Regions from separate parts of the Homo sapiens genome. Here region 2 is linked to region 1. The links come from fine-mapping of genetic effects on gene expression. Tissue or cell type: whole blood. Region 1 holds a variant in brackets; the other region holds the start of a gene. All regions are shown on one strand. Distances are between the middles of the regions.

The links. PIP is the estimated chance that this variant, and not a neighbour inherited with it, causes the effect.
Region 2: CCDC71L starts here. The variant in region 1 is fine-mapped to the expression of CCDC71L in whole blood (TOPMed, PIP above 0.99).

What each region holds. Positions count from the first base shown.
Region 1 is chr7:106,337,873-106,345,800 of GRCh38, forward strand. No RefSeq gene overlaps it. Among named protein-coding and RNA genes, the nearest start is that of NAMPT-AS1, 57 kb to the left of the region's middle. The variant G/A (reference allele first, on the strand shown) is at 3,670.
Region 2 is chr7:106,657,718-106,665,645 of GRCh38, forward strand. It overlaps CCDC71L (coiled-coil domain containing 71 like), which reads right to left and starts at 3,441. Exons shown (of 1, transcript NM_175884.6): 1 at 1-3,441. The coding sequence starts at 3,179. The coding sequence ends at 2,472. RefSeq lists an enhancer at 2,215-2,264 and a silencer at 2,615-2,884.

The sequences.
Region 1 (7,928 bases):
AAAGAGGTTTTTTTGATAATCATTTTGGCTAAATGAATGACTTATGGTAACCTGGAGTTCTATTTCATAATATCAAGTGTTTTAAGCCTCTAACATATTTGATAGGCTTCCCAAAATCAAATTGCAGCTTCAAAATTGTCTTTTCTGACCTCTAACTTTGAGATGCTGCGAAGGGCCCCTGAATCATCCAAAAGAGAGGTGAGAAGAATCATTTGACACGTTTAGTTACATGGGAAGTATTGACAAAAACTTAAAAAATTTAGTCTTCTTCAGGTTATAGTTTAGTGAATGATATTATATATTTTCCAAAATTGTATGGGATTTCTAAAATTCTAAGATGTCTGAGTATATGCCATCAATCATAATTATGGTTATTATGTTAAATGATTGTAAACCACAGAAATAACCAAATTTCCTTGTCAATTGTGTTTTTAACTGTAACTATTTAAAGTTATTTCCACAGTTAATTGTTTAATGCTGATGCAGTTTCTGAAAACGTCACAAGCACACAAAATCCTAGAATATGGTGTCTTTTAGGAAGTTGATTAAAGGATGGAAAGGACTCTAAAAAGCACTCTTGAATACAGGTTTCTGAGAACTTTAGAATCATATCATTTGAACTGGGTAAGAATTCCTGGAACTTTAATGAAAAGACTGACTGGGTTATAAAACTGCTAACCTAGGTAGAACAAAAATTAATTAAATACCAAGAAAATACTTTGCCAGATTTTTATGCTAAATCGGCTGTTACTGAAATTGTTTAGATATACAATTTGAATGAATTCCATGGTCTAAGTCAAATTACCTATGATAACCCATCAGTTACCAGTGTTATTCACCTAATTTGGTGAAACAACTGGTATTCAAGAGCATATAAGTCTAATGTTCATTAAGCATGGATTCATGGAAAATGAGGATGGCCACCTTGTCCTTCTCAAGTCCTTAAAGCTTTTATTATTAAAAGTTCAGCCAGGTGTGGTGGCTCACACCTGTAATCCCAGCACTTTGGGAGGCTGAGGTGGGCAGATCATGAGGTCAGGAGTTCAAGCCCAGTCTGGCCAATATGGTGAAACCCCATCTCTACCAAAAATACAAAAAAATTAGCTGGGTGTGGTGGCATGCACCTTTAGTCCCAGCTACTTGGGAGGCTGAGGCAGAAGAATCACTTGAACCCAGGAGGTGGAGGTTGCAGTGAGCCAAGATTGCCCTGGACGAAGATTCATCTTTGATGTAAACATCTTTTTCCAAGATCACAGATTAAGACTTCTACTATCATGAGACTCTTATCCTTGAATATTTTTTGTTTATGCCTCTATGAACAATAGAAATGAAAAAGGGATCTGTTTTGTGCACTTATGGGGTATACTTTTATTTGTGAAGGATTTTGCAGCCAGCCTTATACATGGATAATCTTATACTCTGATAGATAAAAGATGAAGACCCAGTGTAGGTGAGAAACTTTAATGCTACATACGTTGCCTCATAATCAGTCAGAAACAGAAGATTGGTTCACTCCTATTAACCCACTCATGGGTTAAAAAGAACATTCCCAGGAGGCCTTCACTCTTCTATAAGAGAAGGGCATCATTTATTAGGTCTATTTTCCATTTGGAAGGATTTGGAATAAAAGAGGTAATGATTAAAAATGTATCCCTCACAATAGGTTCTATAGCAGATTCTACTGTAAAGTCTATAGTTACACAACAGACTTTAAATTATCTTGTGAAAGTTATGCTAAAGAATAGAATTGGCCAAAGAGAAAAGTATCTATGCAGCTGCTGGCAGTCATGGCCTATGGTGGAAAACATCAGGTATTATAGAGTTTCAGTTGTAGTGGATTAACAAAGAGACTGTTTAGTTAAGTGAGTAGACTGCTTATCTAGCTCATTCTTTGATCTATTTGATTTTAGGTGGTTTGGTTTATGGGGACCCTGGATAAGGAACATACTTCAAACTCTTGGTATTATCCTTTTGATAGTCATAATAATAGTCTCCCTGGTGCATTGTATTCTCTCAAAGGTTTTACATGCTTGCATGCAGCCATCTCTAGAATGTCAAATGGTCTCTCTTCAAGTGGAATGACAAAAGCTGAATGAAATATGTGACCACAAGGACACTGTAACCTATGAATGGCATGCTGAGACCAGAAACCCAAAATGATGGTAACTGAGAGTGGTACTAAGGCTCTAAGTTTTGATCATACTCTCACCTAAGTGAGAACCTGACCAAAAGGGGGGAATTTTTAAAAACAAAATTGTGGTAGGCCATTGTTTTGGACTGAGCTCATGCATTAGACCTCATCAGATCAAACCAAACAAAATGGAGTTGCTTGGGCTAAGACTTTAAGGCGATACATTGTATTAGTCCATTCTCACACTGCTGATAAAGATATACCTGAGACTGGGCAATTTACAAAAGAAAGAGAGGTTTAATGGATTTACAGTTCCACGTGTCTGGGGAGGCCTCACAAGTATGGTGGAAGGCAAGGAGGAGCAAGTCACATCTTATATGGATGGCAGTAGGCAAAGCAAGAGCTTGTGCAGGGAAACTCCACCTTATGAAACTGTAAGAGCTCTTGAGACTTATTCACTATCATGAGAACAACATGGGAAAGACCTGCCCCCATGATTCAATTACCTCCCACCAGATCTCTCCCATAATACGTGGGTATTCAAGATGAGATTTGTGTGAGGACACAGCCAAACCATATCATTCCGCCCCAGCCCCTCCCAAATCTCATGTCCTCACATTTCAAAACCAATTATGCCTTCCTAACAGTCCCCCAAAGTGTTAACTCATTTCAACATTAACTCAAAAATCCACAGTCCAAAGTTTCATCTGAGACAAGGCAAGTCCCTCCTGCCTGTGAGACTTTAAAATCAAAAGCAAGTTAGTTACTTCCTAGATACAATGGGGGATAAGCATTGGGTAAATACAACCATTCCAAATGGGAGAAATTGGCCCAAACAAATGGGCTACAGGTCCCATGCAAGTCCAAAATCCAGCAGGGTAATCAAATCTTAAAGCTCCAAAATGATCTCCTTTGACCCCGTGTCTCACATCCAGGTCATGCTGATGCAAGAGGTGGGTTTCCATGGTCTTGACAGCTGCACCCCTTGTGGTTTTGCAGGGTACAGCCTCCCTCCCAGATGCTTTCACAGGATGGCATTGAGTGTCTGCAGCTTTTCCAGGCTCATGGTGCAAACTATTGGTGGATCTACCATTCTGGGGTCTGGAGGATGGTGACTCTCTTCTCATAGCTCCACTAGGTGGTGCCCCAGTAGGGACTCTGTGTGGGGGATCTGACCCCACATTTCCCTTCTGCACTGCCCTAGCAGAGATTCTCCATGAGGGCCCCACCCCTGCAGCAAATTTCTGAGCATCAAGACATTTCCATACATCCTCTGAAATCTAGGCGGAGGTCCCCAAACCCCAGTTCTTGACTTCTGGGCACTCATAGGCTCAACACCACCAACTTATAGGCTCAACAAGCAAGATGGCTGCATGCAAGCATGCCTTCTGCAGCCATGGCCTGAGCTCTATGTTGGCCCCTTTCAGCCATGGCTGGAGTGGCTGGGATGCAGGGCACCAAGTCCCCAGGATGCACACAGCACAGGGACACTGGGCTTGGCCCATGAAATGATTTTTTACTCCTAGGTCTCCATGCCT[G/A]TGATGGGAGGGGCTGCTGTGAAGACCTCTGACATGCCCTGGAGACATTTTCCCCAGGGTCTTGAGGATTAACATTCGGCTCCTTGTTACTTATGCAAATTTCTGCAGCCGGCTTGAATTTCTCAGAGAAATTGGATTTTCTTGTCTATTGCATTTTCAGGCTGCAAATTTTCTTAACTCTTATGCTCTGCTTCCCTTATAAAACTTAATGCATTTAACAGCACCCAAGTGACCTCTTGAATGCTTTGTTGCTTAGAAATTTCTTCTGCCAGATACTCTAAATCATCTCTCTGAAGTTCAAAGTTCCACCAATCTCTACAGCAGGGGCAAAATGCCACCAGTCTATTTGCTAAAACATAGCTAGAGTCACCTTTCCTCCAGTTCCCAACAAGTTCCTAATTTCCATCTGAAACCACCTCAACCTGAGCTTTTTTGTCCATATCACTATCAGCATTATGGGCAAGGTCATTCAACAAGTCTCTAGGAAGTTCCAAACTTTCCCACATTTTCCTGTCTTTTCCTGAGCCCTCCAAACTGTTTCAACCTCTGCCTGTTACACAGTTCCAAAGTTGCTTCCACATCTTCACGTATCTTTTCAGCAGTGCCCCACTCCTGGTACCAATTTACTATATTAGTCTGTTCTTACACTGCTGATAAAGACATACTCAAGATTGGGCAATTTACAAAAGACGGAGAGGTTTAATGGACTTACAGTTCCACGTGGCTGGGGAGGGCTCACAGTCATAGTGGAAGGCAAGGAGGAGCAAGTCATGTCTTACATGGATGGCAGCAGGCAAAGTGAGAGCTTGTGCAGGGAAACTCCCCCTTATAAAACTATCAGATTTCATGAGACTTACTATCACAAGAAGAGCACAACAAAGACCTGCCCCCATGATTCAATTACCTCCCACTGGGTCCTTCCCACAACACATGGGAATTCAAGATGTGATTTGGGTGGGGACACAGTCAAACCATATTACACATGGATCCTAGAAGAGAAGAGGTTTTGTTTTTCTCCTGTAAATCTCTATAACAAACATTCCTGAGAGCATAAGTATCTACCTCCTGAAGTTCCCATTAAATCTTTTAACCAAATTCATTTCCTCTCTCCTAGAGACCATCAAGCTTCAGATGATCATGTGACAAAGGTTCCAGTCAGTTCCAGGTGAAGACACCACCCCTGGTCATTAAGGAGCTACCCTGTCTCCATTAGACAGAGCAGGACAAGAGTTCTGTGATCCACAATGGGTAGGGACTACACCCTGAGCCAGCATGAAGCAGTTACAGAAGAAAGACCGTCAGTCCCTCTGCCTCCCATAAAGATTTATGGGGATCACATCTTTTGGGGGGAAATAAGACAGGAGAATAGGGCCTGGAGGCAGGGAACCTAAGGACTTATTAGAACTAAATCAAAGGAAAACACTTCAGTGATGACAGGAAATATCCTCTTCATTTACATAGGGCATACACCTAGTAAATGACTTTGTAACTTGAATTCATCCTCTTCATTTACATAGGGTTTACACCAAGTAACCAGTGAAAATCTCTAGAGGGTATTTAAGCCCCAGAAAATTCTGTAATCGCACTGTTGAGACCCTATGCTTGCTCCTGCTCCCACCCTGTGGAGTGTACTTTCATTTTAAAAAAATCTCTGCTTTTGTTGCTTCATTGTTTCCTTGCTTTGTTTGTGTATTTTGTCCAATTCTTTGTTCAAGACACTAAGAATCTGGACACCCTCCAGTGGTAACAATTTGCAAGCTCGATTGGAGGTGGAGTGGCTTCAAAATTGGCTTAGTCACATGGCTGGCAAGTTGGTGCTTGCTATTGGTGGGAGGCTTTCACTATTTCTCATGGGTTCTTCTCCAATGGGCTGCTTGAGCTTCCCTCCAGTATGGTAGCTGGCTTCCCAGAAAGAGTGGTCCAGCAGAACAAAGCAACAGCTGTGGTGACTTTTATGACCTATCCTCAGAAGTTAAACATGGTCTTCTCCATCAAGTGGTTGCACAGACCACCTCTGATTCAATGTAGGAGGAGACTTCAGATGATCACGAATAGTAAGAGGTGAAGATCATGCAGGCATCCTAGAGCCTGACTGTGACAGGGTAGTATATGCCTATATTCCTCCCTCAATATTTTCCTGTTTTCCTACTCTGCCTGTTTGGCAAGGACACAGTGGCTCCTAACCTCTCTACTCTTAATCTCTTCATTGTGTTTTCTTGATATTTCTCAAGATTCCTACATATATTGAGTCATACAGAATGTAAAACCAACAGTTTTTAAAATTAATCAATTTTAGCAGTTTTTAAGCTTTCAGAGCTGTCCACTTCATCCTAACACTTTAGGAGTTGGTGGCCATCCCATGATCTCCTTCACGTTTATGTAATGTTCTATCTGCCTGCTCACAGTCTGTATCTCATCCTGGAGAGTCCTTATTTGTAAAGCATATCTGTCTTCTTGTACTTATCCTTCTGGTCTCTTCATGGATCTACTACCCTTTCTAGTGCTTTACCTATGTCATCACAAAGATTCCAGAATGAAGTCTCCTTCCTTCAAGATGGCAACCCTGGAGCATGGTTTTATTTGAGCCTGAGCTGGAATTGCAAAATTAGGCAGCTTGGCAGGAGAAAGCTAGAGCCAGGCATCAGTGGACCCCAACCTCTGAAGAAACCAACGCTTTTACAAACAGCTCCCTTCTGTAATGTCATGGGAGAGTAATTTTTTGCTTTTATAGGGTTTCTTCAGACAGAAGTACCACACAAAGATTATACAAGGATCTATGCTTTTCCATGTGGGGGTTTGATACATTAATGAGAATTTGACAAATCCTGACCACTCTGCCATCTGTGGGCCTCATTCTGTTCCTACTTCTGTGATGCTTTCCATCTGTTCTGAGACAGAGGAACTCGTTCCACTGACATAGGCAATACTCCTAACCCTACCAGCTGTCTTACAAGGGTGTGTTGCTGCTCACTGGAGAAAATGAAAGAAAAGGTATATATTCAACAAAAATCCTGCCAGAAACAATTCACATTCTTCCGTACAGGTAGCTTACAAAGGGGCACAATATGGGATGGGTTTATATTAATCATATCTCATACTTTTCATGAGGTTATGTCATCTTACTGCTCAGAAACCTCCAATAGCTCTCACGACTTAATCAAACTCCTTATCTTAGCATTGTAGGCCTTCCGGCTGTCATTCAGGCTTCATGGCACTTTATTAATACAATATTCCTTTCCCTTCCCCGCTACATGTCACCTATACTTTAGCCAAATGGGACCACATACTATTGTTCTAACCTGCTCCATAAATTTCTGCCTCCATGCTTTTAGAAATTGTATTCTCTGCATTCTAAATGTTTTCCTGTCATGTTGACCATAGAAGTGCTTCCCTTCCCTGAGATCTGTGGTAAGTGCTACCTCACTTATGACACCCTTCCTGATTTCCTCTATCTAGTGATCTCACTTCCCCATGGACTCTGAGAGCACTTTAGTGGTAACGTGTTTATAGACTTACCACATTCTTCCGGATATTTGAGCTGTTACTGTAACAGAGTCACGATGCTTACTTCCGCACTTGATGTTTTCCAAAATATTGATGGCTGAGAGTGAGAACAATCTGTTTTAATTCTGCCAGTGATTATTAAATTTATCTTTGAAGAAGGGTAGATCTTTGAGTTTTGGAGAAGAATAAGACTTAAGGGAGTTTTAGATTATACAAATGAAAGATAATCTTTTGGAATACAGAGACTCTGGTCCAATGTTTCTCAATTTGGTTTCCACAAAACCTTAAAGTTCAATATGTCATCACTAGGGGTTTGTAAGAGATTTTGATTTAAAACCTAGACATCAACTTTCGAAGTTTGCATACTTTGAGGATAGATAGTGGCTAAGCAGACATGTCAGCAATTTCATTCGGGGTCTTTCAGCCCCATTGTGGCAGTGTGCAATAGGATTGTATTTGTTTGTGCCCAGTTTGGTTTATGATGCAAGCTATGGGAGGTTACTGGTAACTGATGAGTGCTATATTGCACAGACGAGAGGGGTGGTAAATGGATGACATGAGTTTTTCCTTCTCTAACTATTTCCCCTAAACTCCCCTTATGCACTACAGGATGACTCACAGGACCAAACAAGCTTTGCTAGTATAACTAAAAATGAGGGGAAATTTAATTTTCATTCTAAAGGCTCAGCTGCACCCTGCCCCACCTCCTGCCCCCAGTTTTGTTGTGGTTACAAACATGGCAAAACATAGGTTGA
Region 2 (7,928 bases), 320 kb after region 1:
CAGACTAGAAATGGCATAATTTTTGAATAGTCCAGATGAATACCATATTGAATTCAAGATGGACAATCAGATCCAAAATGGAATCAGATAGCCCATGTAATCCAAAGAAGCATTTATGTGAGTTCAAGTATGCTAAAGTAACAAGGCATAGGAGAGAAAAATGTCAAGAATCTCAGTTAAAATAAATGAATGGTGTCAGTGGTTATGTTTCAGTGGTGTGCTGAGCAGTTATCCTCCCAGTTAAGCCAAATTTCAAAATCCTCTGGAAAACTATCTAGATAAGCTGTATGTCGAAATTGCATTCTAATATGGCCATTGGGTTTATTTTTCATTATTATAAAACTATATACAATAGTAAAGTTGTACAAATACATTTTTTCCAGGTGCTAGTTAGCTATAAAAGTTAACAATATATTTTTGGGAAGAAAACCCTATGCATCTGAAATACAATTGGCAATGGAAGCTAATAACCAAAAGATATGTCTAAGCTTCCTATCACAAATATAATTTAACACTCTCCATCTTCTAAGGAATTATTCATTTTTATTTACTCATGTGACAGTGTTTGTACAATGCATTATCATTGAGTAGTGAATAAAAGACTGAGGCTTACTAGAAAACTGGCATCAAGTTATATATATGTGTGTATATATATATCATATTATTTCTTTTAACAAGAACACTGAAATTGAAGTCACAACACTCCTATACGGACTACTAAACTTGAAATACTCATTTCAGAAAGCTATGCCATTTGAATTCTAGGAACGCAAGAGTCAAAATTGTAACTCTCATTATTCTCCTAAAAAGCTGCCAAGCAGAGATAAGCTTTAGTATTAAAGATTTCACATGTCAAGTTCCAGCCCAGTATGGATCGTTTCATGGCAGAATACTTAAATTTGAAATAATAGTGGTACAAAAACACTACTTGACCCTTTAGGTATTGCAGTAAAAGCTGGCTGTGGCACTGCTGGCTAAAAACTATTAAGTTTTCCTGCCACAAATGACCAAAGGCACTTGGATAATCAAGAATTCCACACTGGGCCATATGGTATAAACACTATAAAAGCGTAAAGAAGGGTCAGTATTCTGTGTGTCTCGCCTGTTTGATTCCTGTGGTCTTCAGCTGTCAAAGACCTAGAACTGCAAACATATAATGAGTGGCAAAAAGGTTAAAAAAAATGTTGGGACAAAAAAATCAACTAAAAATCAACTAATTTTCATTATGTTTGTAAAACTGATGAATATTAGTCTAGACATTTCTTGTTATCCAACAACAAAAACAAAAAGGAAATAGATTTCGCCCAAAGTAACCTTAACCAGTTATTTGATACCAAGAAATGCCTCCACCCCTCTTGATCATTAATAGTTCTAAGAATTCTAATGGGTATTCTGTTTATCATTTTAGTGATAATGTTTACACACATCCATCTCTCCTATGCAACTCCCATTTTAAAATACATTATCCTTGTAAAATACATTACAAGGATAATGTATTTTAAAATACTTTAACGCATAATATTCCTAGATTTGTATGTTAGACCAGGACAGGGGGCCAAATCATCTCCAGTCGGATTCCAGTGACTCCTGTAACCAAAACCAGTTCTTCACAATTTATTCATTTTTTTTAATCACACACCATATGGTTTCAATGCATTTTTTTATTCAATTCAAAAGAATTTAACAAGTTAACTTTTCCTAAACAAAAGTTTTCATGTGTATTCTACCATTTTTAGGAGCTCAGTAAATATAAACATTGTTTCAATACAAAACCTTTAAAAATACCTTGAAAATGTTTAAACAGTTGTATTTTGCATGTCTTTGTTTGTAATCACTGAGCCCATACAAATCCTTGCACTACTAACAGTCACAAGCTTGAACCTCTTAAAAAATATCCTCGATCAAAGCTTTGGAATCCAGTAAAAATTAGGAAACGAGTGGGCTTCAGAATACCCTGAGCACAAACTAGTGCAACACCACATGTTCGAACTTCTGTCCACAAAGAGGGGTGACAGTGAAATAGAAAAAGGGGGAGATAAAGAACAAGTAAATTCTGGCTTTATTACACAAGCACGAAACCAAATTCCTTTGGAAAAATAATGTCTTCGGAGGACTTCCAGACCAGTGAGGTAGAGTCCAACAGTGAGAAAACGGATCTGCCCCTAAGGTCCTGGAGACGTCTCAATCGGTGGTCAGGAAGAAAGGGACCTCCCCTGCGGGTCCAGCTGTCCCCTCCCTCCGCAGGCCGGGTACGGGAGGCAGCAGAGGGCACACCTGCCCCAGCGTCCAAGACGACCGCGCCGCGGCCCGGGACAGGGACAACCATCCGGCAACTTCTTCGCGCGTAAAGTGCATTGGGGGCCGGGGTCCTGGCCGGATCTGTAAACACTCGACTGACACTTGTTCATTCCTCCGGGCGGAAGGCCTGTCCCAAGGTCGGGGCCGGCAGGAGGCGCCCTGGAGGCCGCACCTCATGCCCGGGGCACCGGGAAGCGGCGGAGCCTCACCATGGGTTCCAGGTTCACTCGCAGGACCTGGCGCGCCCTGCGCCGCGCTGCCGCCAGGCTGCGCTCGCCCCACACGTCGCTGCCGACGCGGATGGTGGGGAAGGTGGTCAGCGTCGGGGTGGCCGCCCTCCAGATCTCCTCCAAGGTGCGGCCCCCGAAGCAGGGCCCGGGGGCCACGGGCTTGGCCGGGCAGCTCTCCTCGGGGGGCGGCGGCGGTGGGGGTGGCGGCCGGGGCTTCCTCCTGCGGGCAGCGGCCGCCCGGGCTCCGCGGCGCCTCCTCCTGGCCGCTGCGCGCGGAACCGGCCGGCGCGCCTGGCCGCGGGCTGTAGGGGGCCCCGGGGGGTCGGGTACCAGGGCCCGGCAGGAGGAGTAGCCGTAGACGTCCTTGCTGCGCAGGATGTGCGGGGAGAACTGGTGCTTGAGGCTGCAGAGGAAGCTCCAGAGCTCCGCGTCCGAGCTCATGAACTCCGTGCTGCGGGGCATGAAGAGCTTGAAGGCGTCGCCCAGCGCCTTGGTGCTGTCAGCCAGCGACAGTTGCGACCGCGAGTACACCACCTTCTCCTCCCGCGCCTCCAACCCAGCCCCGTCTTCTGCCCTAAAGTCGCCGCCCCGGGCGGCCGTGGCCGGGGCGACCGGGCGCCGGCGCCGCCGCCTCTTCATACTGCGCCGCATCGAAGGCCGCTCCGGGCCACTCACGCTCGCCGGGTCCCACTACTGCCGCCGCCGTCCCAGTCCGCGTTGGCTCCGCGGCGGCGGCTGCTGCTGGCGTCTCTCGCTACTTTTCTCGCCTCCGCCGCCGCCCCTCCCCCTCCGAGGGCGGAGGACGCGGGCGAATATCCTGCTGCCCGGTACAAGATGGCGGCCGGCGCCCACCCCTGGGCTTTGTCATTGGACGGCGCCTCGCCCCCCTGGTTTCTCTTTCTTCTCCTCTCTTGCCTCTTTTCGCCGGCTGCCTTTCTTTAAATGTGCCCGCCTCAGGCCCCTCCCACCGCAGCCCCGACTCCACCCATTGGGTGCTCTCAGAAGAGGGGCGGGGACTGATGGGGGAGAGGCCAGTTCCTGGAAGATGGTGCTGGGGTGGGTGATGGCCTTTGAACGTAAGTCAACGGTTGGGTGGATCTAGGAGGGCTGCCACGTCTAGAGTAAGAGGGTGGATGTTGGCTACACCATGGGAAGAGTGACTCTTAGAGTGAGGGGGTGTGCAGTTGTGGATTGAGCTGGGAGCTCTACCAGTGTGGATAACAAAGGGAGATTTCCCTGAAGGATGTTCCTGGTATCATCACAGCTAGGGAATTTGGGTTTAAGTCTAGGGGAAATGGGCCTTTCGCAATTCCCATCCACCCTCTCAAAGGCCTCTTCTGGCATCTTCATTCAAAACTCTTCCCTGTCTTGACCCCAGCCCATCTCAAGAAGCCAGTAGTAATCCAGAATCATTCAGGTAATGTGCGTGGCTGGCAGCTGAGAGATTTTAGTCTCCCTCTGGACACTGGAGCCATCTTCATATTTAAGAGAGACCCTGCTTATCCAGAAAGCAAAACATGTCATACCCTATAAAACTAAATACTCTTTGCTCAAGTTGATCAAAGATCTATTACAATAAAGCCATTCTGTGAAAAGAAAATATAGTTTTAAATACACAGTTCTTTATGGATGCCAATTCGTTTTTCATTTAGTTTTAAAATGTCAAAGCCACCCCTATCATTTAGAAAGGATGCATCATCGCAGACAACAGATAAGGTTTCGTTGAAAAACACAAATTGTTCAAAACACATTACCTTTTGTATTGGGAGGAGAGTAGTGGACATCCTTTAGTCATCTTTTCTGTCCTCTATACCTAACTCAGTTCCTGTCAGGTAGTGGACACTCAATGTGTTTGCCGAATGAATCAATGAAATACCACCGATTATCCCAAATAGAGTCAGAAATGTTGAAACTGCTTAGAACAGGACAATTAGATATTTTATATTGCAATTTTCACAGAACTCCTTTAAATTTCTTAAGGTTAAAAGAAAAAATCTCCTGACACTTAGAACTTTGAGGTGGGCATGTGGATTTTACCCAGGAAACATCTTATTTTGCAGTAGTGAACAAATAAAGTATAGGAGTTTTGTGATTTACATGTAGTTGCTAATGGTTTCCTCAAATATTTGACCTGAAAGAGACCTAGTTCATTCTCCTTATTTAACAGGTGAGGAAATCTGTACCATAGAGGTTCAGTAACACAGCTGGCTGATAGCAGAACTGGGATTCTAAATCCTTCGATTTCTAATCTAGTGATCTTTGTATTTCACTGAAGGTTTTTCAAACTGTGCTGTCCAGACTCTAAGGAATTCAATAGAACATGCTTTATGCATAAGTAGAATGACGAAGGACAGAGCTGTACCCCTATTCCTACTTCCACCCCACCCAGAATTGAGCAGTTTTTCTCTGTCTTATAATAGATTTATGAATAATATTTTGTTTGTTCAGTTTCAATAAAACCTAAAATAAATAATTTGAAAGCTCTACACCAGAGATGTCAAATTCTTGAAAGCTCTCACCACACAATGAGTTTATGGCAAAAATAAAACTCCACACAATGGGCTTATGGCAAAAATAAAACATCTAACCAGGAACCAGCTCTCTAGCAAAATCATGGTAACTTTCTGAATAGAAAATCATTTTCCTAGAAAAGCACACTCTGATCTCAGAACAAGATTACAGAGCCAAATACCAGCTTCCTAAATCCTTATAAAGGAATGATATAGCAACAACTCTTTACATCACAATTTGCTCTTTCCGTAATTCTGAGACACATAGTAAAGTGAAATTTGAATAATTTCCATTGGAATACCCAAAATCTAGAGTGAGCCATGAGAAAGTTAGGGGGGCTTCATAATGAAAAGCAAGGATAAAACAAGGATTAAAGTAGACCTGGCTTTTCATATTGGAATCCCCTCCCTTCCTTGATAATCATCATTTTATAAATTCTTCAGGGTCTTTACCACATAAATATATTCCAGACATTTACATAAATGTATAGAACTTATTTCAATTAAGAAGATAAACCTTTTTTAAACACAATTTTGGTTCTAAGAAAACATAAGATCTCAACTTGCCAAGTATTCAAGAGTTCATTTTATAATGCATGCTCATTTAATTTACTTAAAACCAAACAATATTTTTTATGAAATACTTTTAGGAACTAATATCATGATAAAGTGCTTATGTTATCGTATACATTTAAATTTGACATTATTTGCTCTATTCTGTTTCCTCTATTATTTTTAATTTTTTCTTGACCTCCACCTTTTAATTAACTCTAATAGTCTTGCAAATGGTTCCTTATCTGTTCTCCATAAATAAGCAAAATTTACACATAGAAATAATGTATCTCTTCTAGTTCCTGAGACTTGAGATACTATGAAGTTTATGGAAAGTTGGCAAATTAAATTTTTGCTCTTGAGTAACGATATTTTACAACCCTTAGTTTATTCCTTTACCTCTCAAGGGTAATAATGCCTCCTATGTCTGCTAAATAAGTGATGAATAATAATAAACAAAAAAAAGCTGTATGTATTTACTTTCTGTATTCAATATTTATGTAGTTAAAAAATAAATCCAAGCCGAATAAAGTGATGGGAAAAATTAAATAAAATGTATCTTTTAGCTACCCAGAAGTATTGCTTTAGAATCCAATTTCTATAAAATAATCTGCCTCTTGAAAAGTGGCCAAAAAAATTTTGAAAATCTATATAAGTGGTTGCAAACATCAGCTCTGGAATCAAATAAACTTGGGGTCAATTATATCTTTACAAAAAAATATTCTTAGACACATTTTTCACCTTTCTGAGTCTCAGCATTCTCATCTATAAAATGAGTATAACTTCTAACTTCAAAGTTTTAAGAACTGGACGAGAGAATATTCATAAAACACTTACTGTAGTGCCTGGAACACAGCATTCAATAAAAGCTATTCCTATTTGTCTTATTTATTTTTGAGGATTTTACTTGGTTTAATCAATATATTTTAAGCCCTGTATTACAGAATGTCTACATATTTTTTTAAAGTAGTGGCATTGATGAGAGGAAAATAAAAACTTTACAGCTAGAAGAAACTTAGAGATCATCTAATGAGTCCAACATTGTTAATTCAGATGAGAATTCTGAGATGCCAAGAGATCTGCCTAAGGTCACAGAGCTGTACAGTGGAAGATTCTGAGCTAGAACGTAGATCTCTAACTCTAGTTCAGAATTGTTTCTAACATTCTACATTTTGTACTTAACCAAGGAGATAGCATTAATTGCTGGCTTAAATGATGTTAAATATAGCATGATTCAGCAAGAAAAAACTCAGCCTTGTCATTAGACCTATTCTAAAAGTAATTTAGATTTTTATACAAAAGTTAGCTCAAACCCTGATATGCTCTGCAACGGCTTAATGTGAAAAACATAAAGACCATATAAACTGAGAGGATAGGACTTTCTTTTGCTTATAGGAATACCTGTACTTTCCCTATTTTTCCCGCTAATTGCAACTAAAAACCTTGGATGTTATATATAAAGTATACATAAGAAGACTCTGAAAAATGGAGAAGAGAAGGCAGACAGGCTGGAGACCTCAGAGAACCCAAAGAAGGGCATGGCAGTGAGTTCCCTGGGTCTCCTTTCTTCTTCTTTTCTCTTTTTCTAGCAAATCTGAGACTGGGTGCTAGACAAGCCAACAACCCCAAAATGCCAACAGATGCAAACATAAAAAGCCCCAACAAAATCTTCTTCTCTCTAGCTACAGGACCGGGAAAGGAGGGGCAGCCTAACAAAACGGAAAGCTTTTAGAAAATAATTTTCCTACTGCTGCAAAACACCATAGAAAAAAATTATGACTTCTACCCTTGCCAGGCTATAAAAAGGCACCCCCACCACCTCTGCTAGGGTGGTATGAGAGGAGGCTGGATAAGAAATCAGGACTTTAATCCTTGTTGGGCAGTAAACAGGCAATCTGTACCCATGGTGTCAGTGGAGACCATGTGGTGAATATAACAAGACAATCCTACCCACCTTCTCGGCCCTAGTGAGAAGCCAGAATTCCTACCCCCATTCAGCAGTAATGAGGGGCTCCTTTCCCCATTTCAGGTATCAGTGGAAACAGAGGAGAAATCTGGACTCTGACTTGGCAGTATTGAGGCAGTGCCCACCCCACCCCCATTAGGACAGTGTCAGAAAAACAGCTAAAACATTTAAATAAGATCCAGAGTTGTATAATGTAATACCCAAAACATTCAGGTTTCAATAAGAAATTACTTACCAGAAAGCTCTCAAACTGAATGAAGAAAGATTATCAGTAGATGCCAACATTGAGATGAGAAAGATGTTAGAATTATATAAAAAAGATTTTAAGCAGCCATCAAAAAATATTTCAATAAGCAATTATGAACACTCTTA